4 separate regions of the Homo sapiens genome follow, and all the other regions are linked to region 3. Evidence: fine-mapped expression QTL. A gene starts in region 3. Each other region holds a variant in brackets. All regions are shown on one strand. Distances are between the middles of the regions. Region 1 overlaps PTPRS (protein tyrosine phosphatase receptor type S). Region 2 overlaps PTPRS (protein tyrosine phosphatase receptor type S). Region 3 holds the start of PTPRS (protein tyrosine phosphatase receptor type S). Region 4 overlaps PTPRS (protein tyrosine phosphatase receptor type S).

Evidence for each region. PIP is the estimated chance that this variant, and not a neighbour inherited with it, causes the effect. A credible set is the group of variants that fine-mapping cannot tell apart.
Region 1: its variant is the best candidate, but not a certain one, in a credible set for the expression of PTPRS in skeletal muscle (GTEx, PIP 0.87).
Region 2: its variant is the best candidate, but not a certain one, in a credible set for the expression of PTPRS in whole blood (INTERVAL, PIP 0.58).
Region 4: its variant is the best candidate, but not a certain one, in a credible set for the expression of PTPRS in fibroblasts (GTEx, PIP 0.89).

Annotation. Positions count from the first base shown.
Region 1 is chr19:5,317,602-5,323,320 of GRCh38, forward strand. The region is part of intron 1 of PTPRS (protein tyrosine phosphatase receptor type S); the gene reads right to left. Among named protein-coding and RNA genes, the nearest start is that of PTPRS, 20 kb to the right of the region's middle. RefSeq lists enhancers at 2,089-2,590, 2,591-3,090, 4,614-4,883. The variant A/G (reference allele first, on the strand shown) is at 3,085.
Region 2 is chr19:5,262,367-5,268,085 of GRCh38, forward strand. PTPRS (protein tyrosine phosphatase receptor type S) reads right to left here. Exons shown (of 38, transcript NM_002850.4): 5 at 2,642-2,830; 6 at 598-606. Among named protein-coding and RNA genes, the nearest start is that of PTPRS, 76 kb to the right of the region's middle. The variant T/A (reference allele first, on the strand shown) is at 3,037.
Region 3 is chr19:5,337,810-5,343,528 of GRCh38, forward strand. It overlaps PTPRS (protein tyrosine phosphatase receptor type S), which reads right to left and starts at 3,003. Exons shown (of 38, transcript NM_002850.4): 1 at 2,855-3,003. LOC105372252 (a long non-coding RNA gene) reads left to right here. Exons shown (of 5, transcript XR_936279.3): 5 at 1-257. RefSeq lists an enhancer at 391-1,064 and a silencer at 2,931-3,210.
Region 4 is chr19:5,305,969-5,311,687 of GRCh38, forward strand. The region is part of intron 1 of PTPRS (protein tyrosine phosphatase receptor type S); the gene reads right to left. Among named protein-coding and RNA genes, the nearest start is that of PTPRS, 32 kb to the right of the region's middle. The variant T/C (reference allele first, on the strand shown) is at 3,368.

The sequences.
Region 1 (5,719 bases), 20 kb before region 3:
CCACTGGTCCAGGTGGCTACTGACAGCACAAATTTTCCTAAAATAGGACAGGGCAGGGCAGGGCCCAAGCAAACATCTCAAATAAGAGAACCCAAACTCACATAGATCTTTAAAGTAAGAGGGTGGGGTGTGTGGCCCACCTAGAAATTAGTAAGGGGCCAGGTGCAGTGGTTCATGCCTGTAATCCCAGCACTGAGGCTGAGACAGGTGGATCACCTGCACTCAGGAGTTCGGGACCACCCTGGCCAACATGGTGAAACCCCGTCTCCATTAAAAATATGAAAATTAGGCCAGGCGCAGTGGCTCACGCCTGCAATCCCAGCACGTTGGGATGCCGAGGCGGGCGGACCATGAGGTCAGGAGATCGAGACCATCCTGCTTCACACGGTGAAACCCCGTCTCTACTAAAAATACAAAAAATTAGCTGGGCATGGTGGCAGGTGCCTGTAGTCCCAGCTACTCAGGAGGCTGAGGCAGGAGAGTGACGTGAACCTAGGAGGTGGAGGTTGCAGTGAGCCGAGATCACGCCACTGCACTCCAGCCTAGGCAACAGAGCGAGACTCCGTCTCCAAAAAAAAAAAAAATGAAAATTAGCCAAGTGTGGTGGCGCTTGCCTGTAGTCCCAGCTACTCTAGAGGCTGAGGCAGGAAAATCGCTTGAACCCAGGAGGCGGAGGTTGCAGTGAGCAAGATTGTGCCACTGCATTCCAGCCTGGGCAACAAGGTGAGACTGTCTCAAAAAAAAAAAAAAGAAGAAGAAGAAATGATGGAATGATGACCGTGAAATGCTGCGAGACGGAATGAGGACAGGACAGAACAGGCTGCACCCCAGCTAGGTCCAACAGCAAGGCAGTCTGGCCATGCTGTGTGACCCTGGGCAGGTGACTCGACTCTCTAGGCCTCAGTTTCCTCATCTGTAAAATGGGTATAAAAGTCTCTTCCTCCCCTCACATGGCTGCTGTGAAGACTGAATCGAAAGGCACACAGAGCTGTTCACACCACCTGAGAAGCAGCTGATAGACTGCAGATATTATCTTGGTGGTGGTTGTTATTATTTGTTTTTATTTTGAAAGACAGGGTCTCGCTCTGTCACCCAGACTGGAGTACAATGGTGAGATCACAGCTCACTGCAGCCTCAAACTCCTGGGCTCAAGTGATCCTCCCGTCTCAACCTCCCAAAGTGCTGGGATTACAGGCATGAGCCATTGGGCCCAGCTGATGTTATTTTTAAAAAAGTTTTTCCTGGCCTAGGCTGTCAGGGTGTCTAGCACCCTATTCCCCTTGAATTGCTAAGTGAGAGGCCCACACTGCAATCTCTTGATCTGTTTGTATTCTCCATTTAACAGACAGTGAGTCCCTGGAGGGCAAGGGCCTGGCCTGCCCTCCCCTCCATATTTGTCCCTGAAATTCTGAGTTCTGGAAACTTCTAATGGAAGGATCGAAGAGAAAGCATCAGCTCAGCCTGGCCACTAACCCCAGACATGGAAAGAAAAAAAGGAGGGATACTCTACCTTCAAAAGCCATCCCAAGGCCGGGCGCAGTGGCTCACATCTGGGATCCCAGCACTTTGGGAAGCCAAGGTGGGCAGATCACCCGAGGTCAGGAGCTCGAGACCAGCCTGACCAACATGGCAAAACCCATCACTACTAAAAATTAAAAAATTAGCCATGCGTGGTGGTGTGCGCCTGTAGTTCCAGCTACTTGGGAGGCTGAGGTAGAAGGATCACTTGAGCCCAGGAGGTGGAGGTTGCAGTGAGCTAAGATTGCACTGCACCACTGCAGTCCAGCCTGGACGACAGAGCCAGACCTTGTCTTTTTTTTTTTTTTTTTTTTAAAAAGCTATCCCAAATCCACTTGCTTCTTCTCCCCACCACCCACCTTTGCCTTCACCTGGTCCATCCCTGGCATCAACCATGAGTATCTGAGTCAGGTCCTGTCCCTCCTCTGCCCACAGCCCTCCATAGCTCCCACCTCTCTAGGGCTCAAAGCCCAGGGTTCTCCCTGCAGCCCACAAGACCCTACATGACCTATTGCCTCCTCTCCCCTCCCCATCACTCACTGGGCTCCAGCCACACAGGCCTCCTCGCTGTTCCTCCAACACGCCAGGCGTGGTCCTGCCCCGGGGCCTTGGCACACGCTGTGCCGTCTGCCTGGAATGCTCTTCCCCCACGTTATCTGCTTGGTTCCTCCTCACCTCCATCAGGGCTTTGCTCAAACATCACCTCCTCAATGAAGCCGTCCCTACAGCCCCATTAAAAATGACAACCCTCATGCCTCCCTCCCGAGTCCCCTTTGTTCCTTTACTGCTTTCTCTGATCACCCCTGACGTGCTATATATCGTATTTTGCCTATCATCTCTCTCCCTGATCCACAAAGCCATCCCCTTTATTGCTTCAGGGTCCCGGCACAGAGCCTGGTGGACAGGAGGCATCTGAGAAATCCCCCCAGATGATGGAAAGCGCAAAATCGGAGGCAGTGGCTGCGGCCAAAGCAGCCGCTGAGACCCCGGAGGCTGACGGCGGAAGCCTCCACGCCTACTCCAGCCGGGGCCTTCCTGTCCCTGTTGGCAAGCCAGGCCCCTGCCCTCTGCCATCCGGCGGCTCAACACCTGTTGTGACACAGCAGGAAGCAGGGGCGGCAGCCAGTGCCCGTGGCCTTGGCTGGACAGGTCCCTCCGGCAGGTTTAATCCCTGCCCCAGTGGGAGAGGGGGTACACGGACCTTGAAGCCAAACACACAGGCTGACACAAGCACCATCCACTTGGCTTATCCGGCTCCCGGGAAGTGGCCAGTGTAGGGACAAGCCTGATAAACATCTAGCAAATAAATGGATTTTTTCTTTTTTAATTGAGACGGAGTTCGCTCTGTCCCCCAGGCTGGAGTGCAGTGGTGTGATCTTGGCTCACTGCAAACTCTGCCTCAAACGATTCTCCTGCCTCAGCCTCCCAAGTAGCTGGGATTACAGGTGCACGCCACCATGCTGGGCTCTCATTTTTGTATCTTTTTAGTAAAGATGGGGTTTCGCCATGTTGATCAGGCTGGTCTTGAACTCCTGACCTCAGGCGATCTGCTCACCTCAGCCTCCC[A/G]AAGTGCTGGGATTACAGGCGTGAGCCACCACGTCCGGCCTGGATTTCTTTACAATCGTCACACTGTCCTCATGCTGAGCCCAGCCCTGATTTGAGGGCTTCACCCTATGAACTCACTAGATCCTCCCAAGGGAGCCTGGATGGTTGAGGTTATCATTATCCTCATTTTCCAGATGAGGAAACTGAGGCCCAGAGAGGTGGAGTCATTGCTACTAAGGGACAGAGCCATCTGGCCCTAGAATCTGGTTTTGGCCACTAATCAACACAGTCTCAACGAATGAGAAGAATAAAACAAGGGCCCGGTGCTGGCTCATGCCTGTAATCCCAGCACTGTGGGAGGCTGAGGCAGGAGGACCACTTCAGCCCAGGAGTTCGAGACCAGCCTGGACAACATAACAAGACCTTGTCTCTACAAAAAATTAAACAACAACAAAAAAATTAGCCAGGCATGGTGGTGTGCACCTATAGTCCCAGCTGCTCAGGGGGCTGAGGCAGGAGGGTCAACTGAGCCTGGGAGGTTGAGGCTGCAGTGAGCTATGATCATGCCACTGTACTCCAGCCTGGGCAACAGAGCAAGACCCTGTCTCAACAAAGAAAAATAAAAAGAATAAATCAAGGTAACAGGGAAATGTGAGTCACGTCTACGGAGCATTCCGACCTGGGGAAAAGGGCAGCTATGCTTCATCTCCCTGATGTCTCCCGACCCAGTGACATGGGCCCATTTTAGGGATGAGGAAAACTGAGTCCCTCAAGGGGGAAGCGATTTCCTGAAGGATCTACCGCCTAGAAGTGGCAGGCTCAGAGCTAATGCTAAATTCACTAAACCCTGACCCAGATCGACTACAGGGTCATTTTGTAGAGGCCTCAGTGCTGTAAGGAGTTTGGCTCGTGCCTCGTGAGTACCCACTGTGTGCCAGGCCCAGAGTGGAGAAGCCTCAGATGTCTCATTTCCAGACAGGTAAACTGAGACTGAGAAGTTCAGCTATTTGCCCAAGCCCTGAGATGTCCCCATTTTACAAACAGGTAAACTGAGGCTCAGAGAAAGAACCATTTATCCAAGCGCCAAAATTGTCTCCATTTCCAGATGGGTAAACTGAGGCTGGGAAGTTCAGCTATTTGCCCAAGCCCTGAGATGTCCTCATTTTACAAACAGGTAAACCGAGGCTTGGAGAAATAGAACCATTTATCCAAGCCCCAAAACTGTCTTCATTTCCACATAGGTAAGCTGAGGCTGAGTTCAGCTATTTGCCCAAACCCTGAGATGTCCCCATTTCACAAATAAACTGAGGCTCAGAGAAATTTAACCATTTATCCAAACCCTGAAATTGTCCCCATTTCCATTTGGGTAAACTGAGGCTCAGAGAGGTTTCAACAGTTGCCAGAGGTCACACAGCCGGCAAGAGGCAGCACTGAGCCTCAAATCTGAGGTTTCCTGACCTGACAGGGAACTGCAGGCCCCACGGTCCCCGCCTGAGCTGGCGTGAGCCTTTAGCGGAAGCCCTCCCCAGCTCTGCACAGCAGACACCCTCGCGGCCGTGCCTTGCTGGAGTATCCACAGTGACACACAGCCCTGTTGGTGGCTGGGCTTTTTCAGGCTTAAAAGGGAGGTAATATCACCTAACACCAGCTATATTTTTAAAAACCCCACAGCACTCAGGAGGCTGGCCCGTCAGCGCAGCACCACGTCCGTGGGCAGGCAGAGGCCCCGGAACTCGAGGACGTGGCTATTTTAAAGGGGCTATTTCTGGAGGCTGAGGTGAGAATGCGGGGGTGGGAGGAAGAAGCAGCCGCGGGGACCGACTCGAGCCCGCCCCGACTGGCCGACTCCCGGGTTGGGGGTGGTTAAAAGCAAGAACGTGGAAGCCACCTGCTCCCCGCAAGCACTGCCTCCAGCCCGCAGAAAGACCTCAGGCGGCCGGGCGCGGTGCTCATGCCTGTCATCCCAGCACTTTAGGAGGCTGAGGCGGGCGGATCACCTGAGGCAGGGAGTTCGAGACCAGCCTGACCAACATGGTGAAACCCTGCCTCTACTAAAAATACAAAATTAGCCGGGCATGGTGGCGCACGCCTATAATCCCAGCTATTCGAGAGGCTGAGGCAGGAGAATCGCTTGAACCCGGGAGGTGGAGGTTGCAGTGAGCCAAGATCGTACCATTGCACTCAAGCCTGGGCAACAAGAGCAAAACTCCGTCTCAAAAAAAAAAAAAAAAAAAAAGAAGAAGAAGAAGAAGAAAAAGAAAAAACAGACCTCATGCATTTCAGAGCCTCATTTCTTCCCCTGGGAAGAGCTGCTTAGGCAAAATGTATGCCTGGAGCCCTACTGTGTGCAGATGCTGCCATGGACATGGTAGAGGAGGAGAGAAGCAGATAATGAGTATGAAGCATTCGAGGCTGGGAGAGGTGGCTCACGCCTCTAATCCTGGCACTTTGGGAGGCCGAGGAGGGCAGATCATTTGAGGTCAGGAGTTTGAGACCAGCCTGACCAACATGGCAAAACCCCATTTCTACTAAAAATACAGAAAAATTAGCTGGGCATGGTGGCACATGCCTGTAATCCCAGCTACTCAGGAGGCTGAGGCAGGAGAATTGCTTCAATCCGGGAGGCAGAGGTTGCATGAACCAAGATCACACCACT
Region 2 (5,719 bases), 75 kb before region 3:
CCTCCCACCCTGAGAGAGATGAAGGGACTGATAGCATAGGCTGATATCAGTCACTCTCACTTTAGTATGAATTAGTCCCACAACTGATTTCAGGAGATTCAGGCTGAATGCTGAGAAAAGTGGATGAGAAGTGCCCAGTAGCAGCTAGGCTGGAAAAATCTCCACTCCACGCCCAGCCCCAGCCCCCAAACTTCTGTAATTAAATCCTTTTCCAGCAGGGCTAAGGCCAAGAAAAAAGTGCGGGAGGAAATGTTGTTAGGTGCGAAGTTCCATGAGCCCGAGGATGCCTCTGAACCCCCCTCAGCCTGCATTTTGAGGTCTGCCTGGCCTTGTCTCTTTTCCTCTTTTCCTTTGGGTGGACTTGTCTCTTTTCCTCTTTTCCTTTGGGTTTCTTTCTCTGCCGCACACTAGTGCCAGCTGGGGAGGGCTGAGGGGCCGGTCGCGGGGAGGAGGGAGAGGGCGTTAGTAAACATACCAGGCAGAGTGGGTCACAGTTACCATCACGGTGGCTGTTAGTTTGGTGAGGAGAAGGGGAGCAGAAGGGGCACAAAGGGGATGGGGCGTTAGTTGTTGACGTGGTGATGAAATCAGACTTACCAAAGGTTTCTGAACGTTTACAACAGGAGGATAAGAAAAGAGAACAGGAACGTTAACGGGTGGTTACAAAGAATCCTATGTCCTCAGCGAGGAGGGGAGGGCGGGGGAGGGGAGGGGGACGCTCAGAATAATAATAACAACATTTCTTATGATTCCTAAAGTGGCTTATGTTCACTGAGCACCTAGCAGGCGCTAGACATTCCATCCTGGAGAGGTCACCAGAACACAAGGAAAATAGGCATGTTTTATGGGGAAACTGAGGCCACCGCTCCCCCTGCTTGCAGAGGCCTATGAGCTGCAAACATCCTCAGCCAGGCTGGGAGATAGGAGGCGATTTGTCCCCCCAGTGTGAGGTCTGAGTCTCTCCAAGGAAGACATTCTGGGCTCCACGTCTGATCTTTTTGGGGCTTGGTTTTCACTAAGGAGGAGGAGCAGAAAGCGGAGAACAGGTAGGTAGGCTCTTTGGTGGGGGGCAACGATGGGCAGTGAGTGAGGGGCGCTGGGGATGATTCGGGGAGGTACTGCTGCAAAGGGGGCTCCGTGGCGGGATCCTCGGAGGAAGGGGAGAGAGAAAGCAAAAAGAGGGGTGTGTGGAGGTGCAGGGTGATCTCAACAGTGACCTGAACGAAGGCAGGGCGTCAAGCCCGGCACAACTGAAAACAGTAAATCCGTGACACAGACAAACACGCATGTGCAGCCACACGTGTGCTCCCAATGTATGGAGACACATCCCCACCACGTGTGTCCCCACGCACGAGCACTAGGGAGGTGCAGGCTGAGAGGCGCGTGCGCGGATCACTGCCCTGTGTGCACAGGCACGGGAGTGACTGCAATGTGGGTGCACGTGTGGCCGAGATGCAGGCGGACACTTTGCTCCGGGCGGGGGAAGGGAGGCCCGTGTGTGACAGCAGCCAGGCCTGCACACCTGTGCCCACAGGCGGGAGGCAGGCCAGGCCGGCACAGGGAGCCCAGACATGCACACGTGGACATGTCGTGAAGCGGGGGGACAACACACACGCAGACACAGCCCCCCAGACAGATGGACCCACAGATGGGCCATGTGGGTGCTTTGTGGAGACACAATGGTGGAACCACCCGTCTCCAAGGCTCTGTCCCAAGGTCTCCCTAGCCCAGCCAGGGCCTGAACAGACAGGCTGGACTGCCCGTCTGTGCCCCCTTACAGACCTGAAGCCCCGCCATCACCTCTTACTGCTCAGCCTTGGAGAGACTCTCTCCCTGTAGTTTTCTATGGCTCCCCATCACCTTACTTGTCACCTCTGGACACCTGCCATTGCCTTACACAGCTTCCACTACTCCTGCCTGTCTGGGCCCCACTGTATTCTCACTGGACGTGCCTAATGCTTCTGTAGAGGATGCTCTCTGCCACCTTCCATAGCTCCCTATTACATACCCATTGAAGCTGGTCTCCCCTTGTCACCCTCCATGGCTCACTGACACTTCTGCCTGTCTGTCTCCCATTGCTTGGGCACTGCCGATACCCACCATCCTTGGCGGCTTTCTTTCTTTTCAGAGATGAGCGTCTTGCTACATTGCCCATGCTGGTCTCAAACTCCTGGCCTCAAGCAAGCCTTCTGCCTTGGCCTCCCAAAGAGCTCGGATTACAGGCATAAGCCACTGCGCCCAGCCCCCTCAGTGGCTTCCTATCACCCACAACTGTCTGTGGGTGACAGCTGTGATCTCACTGCCTGAGCATGGGAGACACTCTCCCCGCCCATGGCCCTATATAACTCCCCATCCTTGTGCATGTCTGCATCCATTATATCTTCATTGGCCAGGTGTTGAAGCACTATTCTTCTACCACCCTCTATAGCTCTCCAGTACTCATGCCCATCTGTGCCCCCTAATATCCTCAGTGTGCGGCTTTGAAGACATTTGCCCCCACTCCCCCAGAGCCAACGCCTGCCACGGCCACACACTGTCTCTGTCTGTCCTCCAGTAGTCCCCAGAACTTGGGCCCTGGAGATGCTCCCCACCCCCTGCTGCCCTCCAAGGCTCCCACGTCCTGTCAGCCACCCTCACTCACCTGATCGCAGCTGTTTGATGCGTCCATTGCTGGCACTAGGATCCACAGGCAGGAAGTCCTTGAACCAGGTGATCTCAGGGTCAGGGTTGCCGCTGGCTGCACAGAGCATGGTGGCTGTCCGTGTCCGCTCCACCACCTTCAACTGTGGGCCCATGTCGATGTTGGGGAAGCCAGAGGGCAGCTGGTCCTCTGAGGGCAGAGACGTGAGAGAAATGGGCATGGTTCTGAGCACTGCACAGCCACTCCTGAGCCTGGGGCTCAGGGACTGCCTGGCCACGGGTCCAGCTCCTCCCTGGCTGCGTGACCTCAGCCATGGGTGCCATCCTTTACAGCCAGTTCTCTCTCTTTTTTTGAGACAGGGTCTTGCTCTGTTGCCCAGGCTGGAGTACAGTGGC[T/A]CGATCATAGCTCACCGCAGTCTCAACAACCTGGGCTCAAGTGATCCTCCTGCCTCAGCCTCCTGAGTAGCCGGGACTACAAGCATGCGCCACCACGCCTGGCTAATTTTTAAAATTTTTGTAGAGAGGGGGTCTCGCTGTGTTGTCCAGGCGGGTCTCAAACTCCTGGCCCCAAGCAATCCTCCCACTTCTGCCTCCCAAAGCACTGGGATTGCAGGCATGAGCCACTGCACCTGGTTGGGTCCCTCTTCTGTACAAGGGGGAGGCTGGTGTCAGGGAGCTGAGCCAGGTAGAATGATATTTCTCACTGGGGGGTGACTCTGCTGCCCTGGGAGACACTGGGCGATGTCTGGGGATATCTGAGGTTGTCACAACTTGGGGGTCAGGACTTGGGGGTGGGTGCTCCTGGAATGGACTGGGTGGGGCTGAGAGATGCTCTACACCCTACTACATATAAGCACAAACCTGGCCCCAAGGTCCACAGTGCTGAGTGGGTTCATTTACAGCAGCCTGAGGACGCCTTTCTTTTTATCTTTTAAAAAATTTTTAAACAGAGAGATATATACATATAAATCAGCTGGACGCGGTGGCTCATGCCTGTAATCCCAGCACTTTGGGAGGCCGAGACAGGTGGATCACTTAAGGCTAGGAGTTTAAGACCCAGCCTGGCCCACATGGTGAAACACTGTCTCCATTAAAAACAAAAACTAGCCGGGCATGATGGTGCATGCTTGTAATCCCAGCTACCCGGGAGACTGAGGCAGAAAAATCACTTGAACCCGGGAGACGGAGGTTGTGGTGAGCCAAGATCACGCCACTGCACTCTAGCCTGGGCGACAGAGTGAGACTCGGTCTCAAAAAAAATCAAACTAAAAATAAAAATAAAATAAATAAAATATAGAGATAGGGTCTCACCATGTTGCCCAGATTGGTCTCGACCTCCTGGGCTCAAGGAATCCTCCCACCTTGACCTCCCAAAGCATTGGGATTACAGGTATTTTACAGGTATGAGCCACTGTGCCTGGCCCAGAGGACACCGTTTTTATTTTTTATTTATTTATTTTTTTTGAGATGGAGTCTCACTCGTCGGCCAGGCTGGAAGGCAGTGGCATGCACTCCACGCCCGGCTAATTTTTGTACTTTTAGTAGAGAAGGGGTTTTGCCATGTTGGCCAGGCTGGTCTCGAACTCCTGACCTCATCATCCACCTGCCGTGGCCTCCCAAAGTGCCTGGATTACAGGTGTGAGCCACAGCCCCACCTGCCTTTCTAAACATAAACCACACTGCTCCCCCGCTGTACACCCTTCTGTGGTCCGGCCACCCTCAGAAGGAACCCTGCCTGCTTGCCCGCTGCTGGCCCCTGCCACCTTCCCTCCTCTTTTTCTCTCTGGCCCAGTCACCCTGGCCTCCACGGCTCTCAAAGTCATCAAGCCCCCTCCCTCGGGTCACCTGTTCTGTTCCCTCAGCCTGGAATCCCCGTTCCCACATCTGTCTACTGATCGGAACACCACCTGGGACTAGCTCCAACTCCCTTGCTCTAAATGCCCCCACACTCCTCACTCTCCTCTGCAGCAGGGAATTCTATCTGTAACGGTGCATCTGTGTCACCACAGCATCCGTAGCACCCAGCGCAGAACCGGGCATACAGTAGGAGCTCAATCAATGAACAAACAACTCAATCCTGGTTGAGCACTCAATCCTCCAGCACCAGGTGAGTGAGTGGCACCAGGTCTCCAGCGCTCGGTATCCCTCTTGGGTGGTGAGGTTCTGGCTCCCCTCCATGGTAAATGGAGACCGGTGGTGATGTGGGGGCGGGGGGGAGCGGGGACAAGGAGGAGAAACTCAGGTCCCTGGAATCTCCTGGTCCCAGAGCTCCCTGAGCGGTGGGAACATGCTTCTGGGCTGAGGTGATGAGGTGAGCCAGCTAAGTGACGGGCTGCCTTGCATCCAGGGTGCTCTACAAACCAAGATGGGCCGGCCGTGGGGGCTCACACCTGTAATCCCAGCACTTTGGGAGGACGAAGCAGGTGGATCACCTGAGGTCAGGAGTTCGAGACCAGCCTGGCCAACATGGTGAAACCCCGTCTCTACTAAAAATACAGAAATTAGCCAGGCATGGTGGCGGACGCCTGTAATCCCAGTTCCTTGGGAGGCTGAGGCAGAAGAATCGCTTAAACCCAGGAGGTGGAGGTTGCAGTGAGCTGAGATCATGCTACTGCACTCCAGCCTGGGCGACAGAGCAAGACTGTCTCAAAAAAAAAAAAAAAAGAGATTAGGAAACAGCCACGTAGGGCAGACTAATAACCGTGCCCCCCCGCCCCCCCAACTCCACTCCAACGGACAAGTGACAAAAAAGTGACAAATCGCAGTGCTGTTAAGACCAAGAAATAGGCAGCTCCTCTGCATCTGGTAGGAATGCTGGAGTGGAGGGGGTAAAGGGCCGCAAAAACAGCCCTGTAGCTGTATTTATTAATAAAGTTTTATCAGCCGGGCACAGTGGGTCACGCCTATAATCCCAGCACTTTGAGAGGCCGAGGCAGGTGGATCACGAGGTCAGGAGATCGAGACCATCCTGGTGAACATGGTGAAACCCCGTCTCTACTAAACTACAAAGAAGATTAGCCGGGCTTGGTGACGGGCACCTGTAGTCCCAGCTACTCGGGAGGCTGAGGCAGGAGAATGG
Region 3 (5,719 bases):
TCCAAGCAGGGTCCATGGACACTGGACGATGCCTGAAATCCCCTGGGAGGCAGGGAAAAAAGGCGCACTGAACGCTCAACCGGGGTATAAGGAGTGATTTTTTTTTCTCTGCTGGCAGCAGGCAGGAACCTGGGGTTTGAATGTCCCCTTCTCTGTCGCCACCTCACGCAGACTTCAGAGGCTCTCAAGGTTTCCTGGAGAGGGGGAAATCGTCCCCGGAGCTGACCTGCCAACCAGTAGCACCCTCCAGCGCCTCAGCCGGGCCACGCCAAAATGACCTGTCACCCATCTCCCGCGGGGAGTGGGGAGCGGGCCAGTCCACCGCCTCTTGGGACGGCATCTCTGGACGGCCACTGACAGTACCAGTCTCTGTCACCCCCTGGGGGGTTAGGGGCAATGTCATCGGCCAGGGTGGCAGAAATAGAAAAGTGCGTGAGCTCACCAGGCAGCCTGGGTCTCCTGCGACGTTTTGTTTGCCTGAGCCCAATTAGAACAACTCTCAGGATGATGGAGTATGGCGGGCGGTGGCCCCCAGGGGGCTGGGAGGCCTAGCCCCCATGCAGAAGTGCACCGTCATGATGAGGGTGTCCCCCGGGCCTGGGGAACAGGGCAGGACCCTGCTTCCCGGAGGGAAATAATGAAGACTCCGCCAGCCTGCCAGCCAGAAAGAGATGCCCCACGGAAGGCTTTGTGGAGGGCAGCGGGGGGGTAGGGGAGGGATGCCCAGGTGGGGACTCAGTCAGGCCCAAGCTGGGGGGCTGTGGGATTTGAGGGCGGGAAGCAGCCGCCCCCAGCCCCAGCTGCCTGCCTTCCACCGCCAAAATATCAGCTGGCAAAGAAAGAAGAGCAGAGGGACAGAAGGCAGGCGCGATTGGCAGGGGGAGGGGGGCACAAAGGAAGGGACCCTGGGAGGGGGAGGGGACTTATGCAAATGGCAGATTCGACCAAGTCCCTGGGCCATTAATAAACGCTCCAGCAGCTGCCGCTGGTATCGCAGGAGCAGAGGAGCGGGATGGCTTCCTTCTCCCGGGCGAAAGGCGGCAGAAAGAGGGAAGAAGGGCGCCCCAGACAAAGAGGCGCCGTCACCCTCTGCACCCCAAGGACAGCAGCGATAGGGGGCCACCCAGAGGAGGCCAGAATCCCAGCAGCCAAAGTCCGGGTGGTGGCGGACGGGAGCCCGGAGCGTGTGGGTCCCTGTCCTTGGGACCCTAGGGGTCTCTTCCTGCCTCCTCCGGCTTCTAGGTATCATCCCTGCTGCTCAGCCGGGACTCCGACACCTCGGACACCCGCTTCACTAGCCGCGGCTGCCGGGATGTGTTTTTAGGGTCTCGGCCAGAGGCAGGAGGACCCCATGCTCAGAAGGGGGCTCCCCTAGATTGTGACGGGGGGGGACAGGGGAATCCCAGCTGAGCCCAGAAGGGGGAGGCAAGGCACCCCCAATGAGGCTCTGGGAGGTTTGTTAATTTGGGGGAATGAGGTCCCAGGAGGTGGCTGGATTTGAGGAAGGGTTGCAGAGGAAGGGGCGTTCTTGGAAGCTGCATATTTAGGGAGACGAGAAGACGATTTGAGACTGGGGAAAGAGGGTCAACCGAAGAAGGAGGTCCCAGATTTGGGGCGGGGGGTGTGGCTGAAAAAAAGATTCCCAGTTTGTGGGAAAGGTTCCCTGATTTGAGGATTCTGGAGAGAAAGCGGCCGAAGGGGAGTTCCCCAATTTGGGAAGGGGGGGAATTGGTGGGAAATGTCCAGGATTTGTAGGGGGAGGTCCGAAGGGGAGGATCTTAATTTTAGGAGAGATTCCCATAAAGAGAGGTGAACTTGGCCGCAACCTGGCCGAACCCTCGCACCCACGGCGCGGGCACTCTAACCTGGGGGGCTCCCCTCAGGGCACGCCCCGCGCCCCCTTTAACCCAGTGCCGACGGCCCCGCCCCCGGTATGACGTCACCTCCCCTCCCCCCGCAGCCCCCGGGGGCTCCCGGGGCGTGCGGAACCCGCGGGGCTGGCGGTTCCAGGGGCGGCTTCCCCACTCTCGGGATCCCCACGGGGCCCCCAGCGCGGAGGGGAGACTGGGGTGCTGGGCGTGCGCGTCTGCCTGCCAGAGCCCCTGGGGCTGGGGGCTGAGGCTCGCCCCTGGGTGGGGAGGCTGGAAGGGGGCGCCGAGGCCGCAGAAGGGTGGGGCAATGCCCGAGTGCCGGAGGGGCGACCTCCCATAAGGCAACGACAGGGCCCGGAGTGTTCCAGGGGAGACGGCGTAGACTAGGGGGTCTCCAGGGGAGGGAGACCCGGAGAGGGAAGGCGGCGGGCGCAGCAGCCCTGGAGCCACCCCGCCTGGAGCCACCCGTCCCGGCTCCTCTCCGCTCCGGGGCGCCCGCATGCCCCCCATCCCCCGGCACAGCGCCCCCTGCCTCCAGGACCCGCCCGGGGACCCGGGCCGGGCGCCGCCGGGGCCGGCACCGGCTCCGCACACACGCGCGCCCCCCTCCGCGCCTCTGCCCCGCCCGCAGCCCGGGGTGGTGCAGCCGGCGGCGCTGGGCAGCTTCCAATGCCGCGCTCTGGGCGCTTCCAGCCCAGCCCCCTCCCACGCCGCGGACGAAGCCCCCCCAGCACCCCCTGCCGAGCGCCCCCAGCGCGGCCCCGGCCCTGTCCCTCGGGGCATTGTCCGGGCGCAGCTACCGGGGCGCAGCGGCTGGGCGTGCAACTGGCTGCAGCCGAGCATCCTCCGAGCACAATGGCCGTGCAGGCTTCCCCGGCACAAAGCCGGCGCGCTGCCCACTCGGCTGCCTCCGAGACCCCCCTTGGAGCGCCTGCATTTTTTTTTCCTCTAATCCATGATTTTATTTTTTTTTTTGGCTTTACCTGGAGGCTGGCTGGGCTGGGCTCCCCCGGCTCTGCCCCGCTTCACATCGTGGCTGTTGCATGGGATCCGAGCGGAGCCCGAGCGCCAGCGGCTCGCGGCGTGCGCGCGCCGGCCGGGCTGCCGGGCGGGCGGCGCGAGGACACTCACTGCGGCTCGCGCTCCCCTAGCTCCCGCTCGCGCGCCCCCCCAGCCGGTGACGTCATCCCTTCCGCCAGCGCCGCCGCCGCCGCCGCCGGGTCGGGGGCAGGGCCGGCCCGTGCGCGTCACTGCGCAGCCGCGCGGCCGCCACGCCCCCCGGCCAATGGGACGGCGCAGCGCGGTCACGTGGCTCCGGGGTGTTTAAAGGGCCGCGGGAGCACGTGGGGCGCGGGGCTTCGCGGGACACGTGGGCGGCTGGGGTGGTGGTGGTGGTGGCGGCTGCGGCGGCGGCGGGAAGGGCCCCTGGGGCTACTGTCCGTGCGGGAGCCCCAGCGTCCTGGGTGCAAAGGGCATGGCACTTTCTGTGCGCTGCCCTAAACTGTGCCACGGCTCCCCAGTACCCTTGGAATAAAATCCCGCCTCCTCTCTGCAGCTCGCCGTTTCACATTAGCGCCCACTACCCTGTCCCCTCCCCCCCACCATGTCAATGATCCAGAAAAACCAGCTGCTCCTTCTTTGCTTTTTCAGAGATGGGGTCTGCCACCTGGGCCTCAGTACAGTGGTATGATCATAGCTCACTGCAGCTTCAAACTCCTGGGCTCAGGTGATCCTCCCGCCTCAGCCTCCTGAGTAGTTGGGCTCGGGTGATCCTCCCGCCTCAGCCAGCTTCTTACAGTTCCTCTAACTTGAGCATCCAAGAACTTCCCCTTCTCATCTTTCCAATTTCTGCTCAAATAAGCAGCGCCTGGGAGAAGCCCTCCCTGACAACAGCTACCAGCCACGCCCCACTCCACTCTATCCCATTATCCCGGTTTGTTGTTGTTGTTGTTGTTTGTTTGGTTTTGAGTCGGAGTCTCACTCTGTCGCCCAGGCTGGAATGCAGTGGCGTGATCGCGGCTCACTGTAACCTCCGCCTCCTGGATTCAAGCTATTCTCCTGTCTCAGCCTCCGGAGTAGCTGGAATTACAGGCGTGCTGTCACCACGCCTGGCTAATTTTTGTATTTTTGTTAGAGACAGTGTTTCACCATGTTGGCCAGGCTGGTCTTGAACTCCTGACCTCAGTGATCCGTCCACCTCGGCCTCCCAAAGTGCTGGGATTACAGGCGTGAGCCACCGCGCCTGGTCCCATTATCCCGTTTTTATTCTAGTTACACTACAGTGTGGCTCCAGAGATCCCTATTGTAGGTTGAACACATGAATGAATGGATGATGGAGCACTTCTTATAGAGTAAGCACTTTACACAGGTCTCACCTAATTACCATCCCCTGCTTCCCTGGAGTCAGGACGAGCCACAGTTGGAACCCAGCTAAAACACTGATTTGCTGTGTGAGGCCCGGAGCCTCACTTTCCCCATCTGTAGAATGGATTTGCCTCTGGATCTCAGCTCTCATCTGTAAAATGGGGCAAGGTAGCCCCTGCTCCTAAGGAGGGTGTGATGATGAATTGCTATAATGTGGCAGCCTGGCTGCCATTGGTGCCTGAAGATGGAATAATAAGAGAAAAGAGGCCGGGCCCGGTGACTCATGCCTGTAATCCCAGCACTTTGGGAAGCCAAGGTGGGCAGATCACTTGTCAGGAGTTCGAGACCAGGCTGGCCGACATGGCGAAACCCCATCTCTACTAAAAATACAAAAATTAGCCGAGCGTGGTGGCAGGTGCCTGTAGTCTCAGCTAGTTGGGAGGCTGAGGCAGGAGAAACTCTTGAACCCGGGAGGCGGAGGTTGCAGTGAACCAATATCACACCACTGCACACTCTAGCCTGGGCGACAGAGTGAGACTCTCAAAAATAAGGAAAAAAAACAGAGCGGAAGTAAATAAAAGGGGGATATTGACAAAGGTAAGGGGGTTGGAGGGCTCACAGCCACCAAGCAAGATTGCACATCAGTCCTTGTGTTTTGATCATGTCGAAAGCATTTATTTCCTCAAGGCACATATTTGGAGAAGGCCTGGTGCCCAACAGAGGAACTCAACTTTAGAATTGGTTTTTTTTTTCCTCCAAAATTGTTGATTCATTCATTCCAGGCCACAGATGCAGATAAACAAAAAGCATTAACCCGGGGAACAAAACGATAAGGCGGAAGTCATAAACAGGAGAAAAGAGAGGAGATAATGAATAATTTAACAAGGAACCTAATTTAAGCTTGGAGTTTCCCAGCGGCCAGTGCAGCAGCCACGTTTGCAGAGCCTACTTTGTTTTTCTTCCTGGTGGGGTGACCCTGATCTGACCGTTTACAATCTGGCCTCAGTTTTCTCATCCAAGCAATGGGAACACGATCCCATCTTGAAGGATCAAATGGGGTGGTCTGTGCACAAATGCTTAGCGTGGTTTCTCACGCACAGTGGGTGCTGAAGCCTTGGAGAATTGGTGGAGACACAGTAAAATGAGATGGCTGATCGTGGAGGGGCTGATCATGGCACGAACCCCAGCCCAGTGACCTGTTTGGGAGGTGACCTCAAACAAGTGGCCGCAACACTGTAAGCCTAGCTGTCCCCATCTAGAAAAGGGGGACAACCACTAGTACCTCTGAGGGATTTTGTGAGCAGTCAAAGAAAACAGATTAAATACATCAAAAACAGAATTAAAATACATTGTAGCAGCTGGGCGCGGTGGCTCATGCCAGTAATCCCAGCACTTTGAGAGGCCAGGGCGGGTGGATCACCTGAGGTCAGGAGTTCGAGACCAGCCTGGCCAACATGGCAAAACCCTGTCTCTGCTAAAAATAC
Region 4 (5,719 bases), 32 kb before region 3:
AAGGGCGAATTCCTCATGCCTGGAACAGAGAGAACCAGCAGCACAATAGGTACAAATACTTGAGGAAGGGAGGGAGTCCCTCTAATGCTCCCCTGGAAGCAACCTCTGCCATTACCATCTATCTTTGTGTCTTTTTCTCATGAAGTTATTGATCAAAGGTAACTCTAGAATACAGGGTGATTTTTTTTTTTTTTGAGACGGAGTCTCACTCTGTCACCCAGGCTGGAGTACAGCGGCACAATCTCAGCTCACTGCAACCTCCGCTTCCTGGGTTCCAGTCATTCTCCTGCCTCAGCCTCCCGAGTAGCTGGGATCACAGGCGTGCGCCACCACGCCTGGCTAATTTTTGTATTTTTAGTAGAGACGGGGTTTCACCATGTTGGCCAGGCTGGTCTCATGCTCCTGACCTCAAGTGATACGCTGGCCTCGGCCTCCCAAAGTGCTGGGATTACAGGCATGAACTACCACACCTGGCCCAGGGTGATTTTTTTTTTGTATGTGAAAATGATATTCTGTTCGAATCATGGCTGTTCCTCACATGACTTGTAACTACTGAGCACACGCAGCCCAGGCCTCTTCTCGCCTGTGGTAGGATCTTCCGTGGCAAGGCTGTGCCTTGGGCGTTTATCACCCAATTCCCTGTGGACACTTCGGTTGCCTCCATTTTTTCCCAACCTCACCCAATGCCATGGTGAATCTCCATGCTGACATCTCCCAGGTCCCCTTGGGGAAGCATTTTTGTCTCTCACTGGTGTCCAGTGAAGGGCAGCTGGGGTGGAAGGTCGGGTTACAGCTTGTTCTAAACAAGCAGGTTCCCCTCCTACACAGTCGGAAATGAGTAGGTCCTAATAGTCCCCGAGGAGACAATTGGCTATTATCTTCCGAAGTTAAGTTTATACATTCCCTTTAGGCCTGATAACACCACCTCTAGAAATCTACCCGGCAGACACTTTCCCGTGAAATGACACGTGGAGAAAGTACTCACGGCAAAAGGCTTGAAGCAACCTGAATGTCTATCGATAGGAGATTGGTTAAGTAAAGAACAGTACAAGGGGGCCAGGCACAGTGGCTCACGCCTGCAATCCCAGCACTTTGGGAGGCTGAGGCAGGAAGATCACCTGAGGTCAAGAATTCGAGACCAGCCTGGCCAACATGGCAAAACTCTGTCTCTACTAAAAATACAAAAAAAATTAGCCAGGTGTGGTGGCCGGCACCTGTAATCCCAGCAACTCGGGATGCTGAGGCAGGAGAATTGCTTGAACTCAGGAGGCAGAGGCTATAGTGAGCTGAGATCATGCCATTGCACTCTAGCCTGGCCAATAAAAGCGAAACTCCATTTCAAAAATATAAATACATAAATGAATGAATGAATAAATAAATAAAAATAACAGTACAAGAGGTCAAATAATGATCGAAGAGATTAGTATCTTAGTGTTATGAGATCAGTATCTCTTAGTGTTATGAGATCAGTATCACAGCTGTGAAAAGGAATGAGAATACCAGATGTACAATTATAAAATTACTTTTAAGATACTATATTTTTAAGTGGGGGGGAAGAAAACAAGGTACAGAACAGCATGTAGAAGATGCTGCCATTTGGTTAAACAAGGGAATATAAATCCAGCCGCCTACTAAATGTTCACAGAAGATTTCTAGATAAACTGCGCTCTTCAAAACCGTAGCCACGAGCCGTATGTGGCTGTTTAAATTTAAACGGAATAAAATGGAATAAAATTTAAAATTCAGTTCCTCGGTTGCACTGGACACATTTCAAACGCTCAATAGCCACATTCGGCTCAGGGCGACTGTACCACGGTGCGTAGACGGAGACCATTTTTATCATCGCCATATCGGGGGCCAAATCCGGCCCACCGTTTGTTTTTATAAATAAAGCTTTATTGGCACATAGCCACGCCCACCAGTTTACGTGTTTGTCTATGGCTGCTTTCACGCTCCAATGGCGGGGTTGAGTAGTAGACAGAGATCATCCGGCCGGCAAAGCTGGAAAGATTTACAAGGTGGTCCTTTATGGAAAAACTCTACTGACCCTGTTCTGGGAAGAGACTGCTACTGGGGAAAGAGAGAGGGGAGAGGATCTGGAGATTCTCCACCATGCATTTTTCTCTGCATCCTCAATTGTATCCCATGTGTACGCATTCTCTGGCCAGAACAACATATTAAAAATAAAAGACGTGGTGTCACAGAGATGCCGATTTCTTCTCCTGCCAGCCACGCCCGGAGGGCCTGGTTCCCCTCGACGCTGCCACCCTGGATAATACCACACTTCAAACAGTTTTGCTAAATGGATGGGTGAGAAATGATATCTTGTTTTAATTTGCATCTCCTGGGCAGGAGATGGGAACTCTTTAACTATAGATAAATGCCCGTCTAATCATCCATCGTCCCCCCAGACTCCTTAAGGGCAAGGATTGTCTGCATCAGTCACTATAGTGTCCCCAGTCCCAGCATGGGGCCAAGCAAACAGCTGAAGCCCAGTACATCCACACGGAAGAGAGGGAATCAGGCCCAGGGCAGCAGCCACAGTGCAAGGCCTGGGCTAGTTGTGGCTGGTGGTGAGCATCGAGTGCCAAGCCAAGCTTCACCGACGCAGTCACAGGGGCAGACTCCATGCGGCAGAGGTGGCTGCCAGCCCCTCGGGGAACCTGCAGACTCACGTTCAGCAGTGGGGGAAGAGAGCAGGGTGGGCAGGGACCTGGCAGCCTTGGGGGTAGGGGAACTGTGGGCTCCAGGCGGGGAGAGAGATTATATATTCATCAGAATCTTAAACAAAAGCCCCGCAGCCGCCTGTCAGCCAGGCTATGGCTTTTATGGTAATCAGCAATGAATTACCCACAATGCCTGGCCAAGCGCAAGTGGTTCTTGGCCCGGATCCTAAACTAATTTTTGTATGTTCGTGTGTATATAATTTTGCTCGCTCCCTCCCGTTCCTCTCCCTTCATTACCAGGAGCACGGGTGGGGTACGGGGCAGGGAGGCAAAAGGAACCCTGGGTGTAGAAGTGGAGGATGCTCACCAAGACCCCCTGGCCCTACAGCCTGCCTGGCACTAGGCCCTGGGCTCAGAGTGTGTGGAGGTGGGAGGTGAGTGCCAAGTGGGAACTGAGGGGAGCCTGGAAACCACCAAAAACTGGAGCTGGCAGCTCCGGGGGTGGAGAGAGAAGGGAGGAAGGGGGGGTTGGCTGGCTCTGGTGGTGAGCAGAGTGTGCAGGCCCCTTAGTGGGGTTGAGCCTGTGCCACGTGCTGTGTGGCCTTGGGCAAGTGCCTTAACCTCTCTGGGCTTCAGCCCCCTGGTCTGCAAATTAGACCTCCCTTCCTGTCCTAACCTCTAGCCCCATCCAGCCCCAAGTG[T/C]GTAGCCCACAGCCCCTCCCAGGGCCCTGTCTATGCAGGCCACTCTCTAAGTGCTTGACGCATATTAACTCGTTTTGTTGTGCCAGTTATTTATCTCAGATGGGGAAACTGAGGCTGAGGATAGGATGTGCCTTGTCCAGAGCCAATGGCTTGCTTGTAGCACCTGAAAACCCGCTATGGGCTAAGTCAGGAGCTGCCAACTCCATGTCTCCAGGGAGAACCAGCCCACCACTTCCTGGGAACCTCCGCAGGCGTCCTGCTAATGGGGGCGTTTCCATGCCTGCCTCTCTCACCATCTTCGCCACCTCAGCTCATCTTCTCCGTCTTTACCGATGTTCAGGACAGAGGCCTGGGAGTCGTTCTTGACTCATCTCAACCCTACCCTGCAGCCAACCACTTGGAGAAGCCAGCCAACCCTTCTGCAAAATCCTTCTAGAATACAACCCCTCCTCTGCCCCTGCCTGGTCCACCCCCATCATCCCTGGCCTGGATCTGTGCCGTCCCCTCTGCTCTGGTCCCCCAGCGTCTGCACTCATCCCCCACAGTCTGTCCTTTCTGCAACAGCCAGGGGTCGCCTGTGAACACGTCGGTCAGGGCTGGTTCCTCCTTTGCCCATAGCCCTCCCTGGCTCCCACCTCCCTCAGAGTAAACGCCCAAGTCCTCCTGGTGCCCCACAAGGGCCTGCACAACCTGCTCTGTCCTCTCCCTGCTCTCCCCTCCCCTCCTCCCCCTCCTCACTCTGCTCCAGCCACACAGGCCTCCTCGCTGTTCCTCCAACATGCCAGGTGCGGTCCTGCCTCAGGGCCTTTGCACGGGCTGTGCCCTCTGCCTGGAACACCCTCCCCTCAGATGTCAGCAAACATCATTCTCTTATTCCTGTTGGTCTTACTGAAATGTCACCTCTTCTGTGAGGCCTGTCTTGATTCTGTAGCTAAAACAGCCCCTCCCTGCCACCAACCAATTCCTCTAGCTTTTTTCTTTTCTTTTTTTTTTTTTTTTTGAGATGGAGTCTTACTCTATCACCCAGGCTGGACTGCAGTGGCGCAATCTCGGCTCACTACAACCTCCGCTTCCCCCGTTCAAGCAATTCTCCTGCCTCAGCCTACCGAGTAGCTGGGATTACAGGCGCCCACCACCATACCCAGCTAATTTTTGTATTTTTAGTAGAGACAGGGTTTCACCATGTTGGCCAGGCTGGTTTCAAACTCCTGACCTCAAGTGATCTGCCCACCTCGGCCTCCCAAAGTGCTAAAATTGCAGGCATGAGCCACTGCGCCTGGCCAACTTTATTTTTCTTAAAGGCATGGCATACAGTCAATCCTTAACACATATTTAATCTATTGGCTTTATGGCTTTTGTTTTTTGGGTGTTTCTTGTTTTTGTTTTTTGAGGCAGGGTCTCACTCTGTCACCCAGGCTGGAGTGCAGTGACGCAATCTCAGCTCACTGCAGCCTTGAACTCCTCAGCTCAAGTGATCCTCCCACCTCAGCCTCCTGAGTAGCTGGGACTATAGGCTTGTACCACCACACCCGGCTAATTTTTGTATTTTTATTTATTATTATTATTATGAAACCAAGTCTCACTTTGTCTCCAGACTGGCGTGCAGTGGCGTGATCTCACTGCAACCTCTGCCTCCCTGGTTCAAGCGATTCCCCTGCCTCAGCCTCCCGAGTAGCTGGGACTATAGGTGCATGCCACCACGCCCAGCTAATTTTTTTTATTTAAGTAGAGACGGGGTTTTACCCTGTTGGCCAGGATGGTCTCGATCTCCTGACCTCGTGATCCACCTGACTCGGCCTCCCGAAGTGCTGGGATTACAGGCATGAGCCACTGTGCCCAGCCTTTTGTATTTTTAGTAGAGATGAGATTTCACCATGTTGGCCAGGCTGGTCTCGAACTCCTGACCTCAGGCGATCTGCCCGTCTTGGCCTCCTAAAGTGCTGGGATTATAGGCTGAGCCACTGCGCCCGGCCCCTATTTGTTCATTGTCCTTCTGATGCATTCCACGAGGGAAGGGTTTTTCCCTCTGTCTTCTCCGTCACTCTGTTCCCAACACCTGACCCTGTGAGGATCAGGGCCTGGTATATAGGAGGTGCTCAATAAGTATCCAGTGATGGAGCTCTAGGCCCCCAGCAGGGTCCTGGGCCCAGAAAGGACACGACGGTTGTTTTCTGAACACACAGAAGCTTTCCTTGGGGTCTGAAGGAAAATTTTAGACCTGAAACCATCCCCTGGGTGGAGGCTGGGGGTGGGGATATAAGTATCTTGGGAGCAGCCAAGGAAAGAAAAAGAACATTCCTGTCTCATCAAAGCTGTTCAGGGGAGACCCGAGCTCCCTGGCTGGCGGCTGGG